Regions from separate parts of the Homo sapiens genome. Here region 1 is linked to region 2. A link means that fine-mapping ties the variant in region 2 to the expression of a gene that starts in the linked region. Tissue or cell type: whole blood. Region 2 holds a variant in brackets; the other region holds the start of a gene. All regions are shown on one strand. Distances are between the middles of the regions.

The links. PIP is the estimated chance that this variant, and not a neighbour inherited with it, causes the effect.
Region 1: GNB4 starts here. The variant in region 2 is fine-mapped to the expression of GNB4 in whole blood (TOPMed, PIP above 0.99).

Annotation. Positions count from the first base shown.
Region 1 is chr3:179,449,874-179,452,676 of GRCh38, reverse strand. It overlaps GNB4 (G protein subunit beta 4), which reads left to right and starts at 1,207. Exons shown (of 10, transcript NM_021629.4): 1 at 1,207-1,331. It also overlaps the pseudogene RPL29P34. RefSeq lists silencers at 1,037-1,186, 1,227-1,636.
Region 2 is chr3:179,378,340-179,380,995 of GRCh38, reverse strand. It overlaps MFN1 (mitofusin 1), which reads right to left. Exons shown (of 18, transcript NM_033540.3): 13 at 2,553-2,655; 14 at 2,182-2,411. Among named protein-coding and RNA genes, the nearest start is that of MFN1, 32 kb to the right of the region's middle. The variant T/A (reference allele first, on the strand shown) is at 1,650.

The DNA.
Region 1 (2,803 bases), 72 kb before region 2:
TATTTTTGTCACGGCCTGGCTTTTATACAAAACGGTCACATTTTCCCCACAGTCACAAACAGGGTGTGTTTATCATGGCATCACCTCTTTCAAGGGACTAATAGATTTATTCCAGGTGATAGTGGGAAGCAGCTACAGAAGGAGGATTGGAAGGCTGAGGGGTTGTTAAAGTTATCTGATGATATTGTTCGAACATTTCTCCGGCACAGAAACTCCACAAAGAACTCCTCTGCAGTTTTCGCTACCCAGGGCTGTTTCTTTAAATTGTTTGACGTCAGAGAAGGAATGCTATAGCAACAGTCTGTCAAACTGGAATTAACTCAGAAGAAAAATGGGGGTGGGGAGAGGAAAAATGCTCCCAGGCGGTACTGACTTCAGAGGAAGCAAATTGGATAGATGCATTTATTTTATGACATTTTAAACATAAAACACCCAGATAAATGTGAAAAAAAAAAAAACTCGATTGAGATGCATGTGGTGTTTAACTCATGCAGAGAAGAGCGACTTGGCAGGGATATCTGGAAGGCCTTCCAGTTTTATCAATGACAATAGGAACAATAACTTCCAAGTATTGGCCATTTATTTGGAGGCAGGCTTCGTGCAAACATCACTTCATTTAATATGCTTAGCACCTTTATGAGGCAGGTATCAGTATCTTTATTTTGGCGATGACGAAACTTAGGCCCGAGACGGTACACGGTCCTACAACTAGTGATGGAAGAGCGGGGACTGCAACGCAAGGTTGTGCAACTCTGGGCTTCAGTTTACTTTCTGACATTTAGAATTCCAGAATGGGAAACCTAAATGGGGCCTTTGGGGTCTTCTAGCTCTGCCCTTCGATCCTGCTAACAAGCAAACTGGCGCCTGTCAGCGCCGGAAAGGAAACTGGCCACGCCACTTAGACGGGCGCTACTTAGCAGCGTGCCCCGGCGCCACACCAACAAGAAAACGAAACTGCCCGGGAATGAATGTTTTTCTTCTCCTTCTGGCAGGAAACGAGAGAGAAAATAGGAAGCAGAAGCTGCGCGCGGCGCCCGCTCCCTTCGCCCCCCGCCCGGGCTGCGCGCGCTCCGAGGGTCTGCGCGTCCCCGGCACGTCCCCGCCGGGCCCGCGCGCCTCGTGCCTCGCGCCTCGCGCCTCCAGCCACGTCCCCGCCCCGGCTCCGGCGCGCCGCGGAGTTGGCTGCTGGGAGGTGCGGGACTGGGTGTGGCCGGCGGCTCTGGTCTCGGCTGTGAGCTGCGCTCTCCACGCCGGCTCCGCGCTCCAGGGGCTGCTGAGCGCCCAGCGGACACCGGCAGCGCGCGGTCGACGCGGGCCTGAGCTCCCTCCAGGTAGGCGGCGAGCTCGCGAGCGGCGGCTCGTCGGTGCGCCCCGCGAAGCGATCCCGGGCTTCTCGCAGGGACGTGGGGCGCCGCGAGCCACCCCTGCGGAACGGGGCCCGGGTGACGGCGCGGGGCGGGGCGGGTCTCCCCGGGCTCGGGCGGCCGACGCTGCCCGGGAGGGACGAGGAGGGCGCGCCTGTGTCGCGCCCAGCTGCCACGCGGGAACTGGCCCCACGACCGCCGGCGCAGGCACTTCCCGGGCGGTCCAGACCGCTCGCCCCGGGGAGCGAGGAACGGTCGGCGGTCCAAGTCCTGCAGACCCCCCTGGTTTCTCGTCACTCCCCGAGGCCTCCTTCCAGGAACTCAGAGCACGAGCCCGTGCGTGCCCCCAAAATAACGGGTATTCGGGACTGCCCAGCAGGGCTGTTGGGTGGAGAGTGCTTGGAAGACTCATAAAAGTTCTACGCTGAGTCCAAAATTAGTCCAATGGTTTTGTTTCAGATTTATTTTGGAAATGATATAATGTCCAGAGTTTGGGGATGGGAGGGGATTGATGAATTTTGAATACTTGTGAGTTCAGTACAATAAAAAGTGTTTTGCTTTTCTCTCCACCTTTTTCTGCTTCAGAACACAGATGATTGCCATATACTTTGATATGTATTGCTATTCGCTAAGGGAACGTTGAATTTTCAAAAGTTTGAAACCAGGCTTTCATTTGTTTATACAAGCAATACTTTGTTATTTTTCGTCTCCTTGTGTTCCCTTTTCTCCCACTCCTTCCCTTTCTCTTTCCATAAAGGATAAGGATGCATCTTTCTCCCTCTCAGCCACCGACAAAGTAGCTTGGCGTGTGGCTTAGCGGGAAGTTTTCTTAAAACGTTCAAAATTTAATTGTTGATTAGAACTTTTATTATGAGTCCGTCTCAGTGTTGCAAACAGAGTTTATGACCATTAAGTACATCTTCTAGGACAGAGACAGAACACACGCTACTTAATTTAAGATGGGAGGGAAGTTATTTCTAGTCGGAGAGGAGGACGGCTGATTAGGTGCATTCAAAATTGTGTGCTTCGAGTCTCTGCCATTGTTCATTTTAATACTCTTCAGTTTGGGGCTTTTGGTTTACTACTGATCCTAGGCTCTGAAAATTTACTGTATATTTCAGTATGTGGCTTAAAGACATTTTAAGATTTTCCATGTTGCATTTTGGTTTGTAGATGAATTTGAAACTGAAATAGAAACTTTTAAAATATCATCTTATTGAACGTTGTCAACCCTCTGTATATACATTTATAAAACTGATTGATACAGCTTGTGATATTTTAGGTTGGTTCAACTCTTTGTGGGCCCATAAACATTATTTAGGAAGTTATTCCGAGTCTTTGGCCTTTGTTAACCTGTAGAATTGTTTCTTTTAAACAATTGGCATGTAAGTATGTCAGCACATACTTTTACACTTTAAAAATAGACTCTGGGGCAATTT
Region 2 (2,656 bases):
ATATCCTTCTTCCAGCTTACGGATGGACTCTGAAGATATTATTTTTTGCATAAGGAGCTCACTTGACATACTTCAAAGTCACCAATTTGCTCCTCATCATCAATAAATGTAGTGACAGGCAGAGGCTGCAGGCATACACAACTGAGTCACTGTCTTCCAAGTGCTGGCATATATGGCATCCTTCATCCTAAACTCCTTGTGCTGGCAAAAGCATCTATGGCATCTTTCATTCTAAACTCCTTCTGAAAACCTTCCACACCCAGGCCTCAGTTCACTGCTGCTAGCATGCTGCCCAAAAAAGGTTTTTGTATTTACTCTTCATTGATCGTAGAATACCCTGGTCACAAGGTTGAAATAATGAAACACTTTTTTTAATAAGAATTTCAGCTAGACGATGAGCAGAATAGTTGTCAAGGAATAACAAAATCTTGCAGTCATCATCCGGCCTAGCTTCCCTGCAAGTGCACACAAGCTGGTATAAAATGTTTGTGAAACCAATCAGAAAAGATGTCCCTAGGGATCCATGCCTTTTTGTTAGTACAATAATGGACTAGTAAAAAAAATGCATTCCTTGAAAACAGTGAGGATGCAAGCTTTTGCCTATCACAGTAAGTTCACATTTATGCCTGCTGCATTAGCACATCCCAGCACAGTTATTCTGTTCTTTGCATCCTTTATTCTTGTAGGGGCTGTCTCCTCAGCTGTAGTCAGTGTCTTTCTGGGTCAATAATGGCAAAACAGTGATGTTTCATCAGCATTATAGACTTGTTCTGGAGTCAGATTTTCATCAGAGACAATCTTGGCAAATTCATCAATGAATTTCTCTGCTGTTTTGTGATCAAGATGCTTTAACACCACAAACCTTTAGAAAAGTTAATGCTATCTTACCTTAAATTTCTCTAACCAGCCTATTGAATACTCACAGTTCCCTTCGATTTTCAGTTCATTTTAATAGATGTTTATTTCATGATCAGCATGTCCTTAAGTGGCACGTGTTCACTGCAATGCTGATGGATCCACTCTTTCAATGCATGATCAAGATCTTCGTTTTTAACTTTCTGCAGTGTTTTTGTTTTTTTCATTAACTTCTGTCATCATTTTTAGCATGGAACTTCAACAGTTTAGTCCTAAAGAACAACTTTAGGAAAGTTGTTCTTTCTTTTAGGTCATATATGGTGTTCATTCCAACATCATTCTTCTGTAAGAAGTTTCTCACTTACATTATTGTCCAGTTTTTCCAACAGCTTAAATTTATGTGTTATAAATAAAAATAAATGCCTCTTCTTTTTCTTATCAATGTCACCCACAAGGGTATCTGTAGGCCTTTTAAACATTTTAAACAGCCTGGGTGCTGTGGCTCACGCCTGTAATCCCAACACTTTGGGAGGCTGAGGCAGGTGGATCACTTGAGGTCAGGAGTTCGAGACCAGTCTGGCCAACACGGTGAAACCCCATGTCTACTAAAAATACAAAAATTAGCTGGGTGTGGTGGTGGGTGCGTATAATCCCAGCTGCTCAGGAGGCTGAGGCAGGAGAATCGCATGAACCCGGGAGGTGGAGGTTGCAGTGAGCCAAGATTGCACCACTGCACTCCAGCCTGAGCCACAGCGCAGGTCTCTGTCTCAAACGCATCCCCACTCAAAAAAAAA[T/A]TTTTTTTAAACAGTATCTTTACACCAGAGAAAAGACAGGAAGTAAAGAAGCCCATACTGGGTAATGCACAAAGGTCTTGGCCCCTTGTGGGGCATCATGGGGAAAATGCTGTTGGTGCACTGGACCTGCACATGTGCCATTTTAGTACCCTTCATAGGTGTGCTTGTGTGGGGGAATTTGGGCATACGTGGAAAAGATATATTGCAGCTAGAAGAGGCTGAGTCTTTTTTCCCTTGAGGACACTGAATAAACTGTGTGTTGTGTGCCTGCGTTTTTACTATGACCTCATTGAGGTCTGGTGTGGAATTTTCCACCTGTGGTGTCACCGTACTCAAAAAGTTTTTCATTTTGGACCTTTAAGGATTTTCAGATTGGAGATGCTCAAACTAAATATCTACCTCAGAAATGGCTCTAAGAGATAGATACTAGCTTTTAAATGTGCAGATTTTGTAAAGCTAGTTTTATTATAGAAAAACCACATAAACAAAATAATAAAGGAGAGTCTTAATTGGTAGATTCAAAGATACATACCTGAAAGATAGGCTCTGATAATCCTAGGAGCACCCTTTGAGCATTTCTAGGGCCCAAAAATCGATGTACAAGGGAAGACCAGCCCAGGGAAAAACGAAATACAATATCCTCTTGAAAATCTGAACATAACTTGTGGTAATTTAGATTATAACTGAGATCAAATTTCTTGCAAGGGATCAGTGTATGTAGTTTATCCTGTATACCAGCTGGAAGTAATGGCTTCAAATTTTCTAGAAAGAACAAAATTACAACACTTAAGATAAGAATGGTAAATGTTTTACCTTCAATGGAATGCCTAAAGGAAAATAAGCTCTTCACCAGTCATGAATGAAAAAACAAACCAGACATGACCTTGTAGACATAAATATTACCAATAATTTCTTGCTGGGTCTGAAGCACTAAGGCGTTTACTTCATCGGTGCATCGATCAGCCAAATTTCTTCCCATACCATCCTCTATGTGCTTATTTAATTCC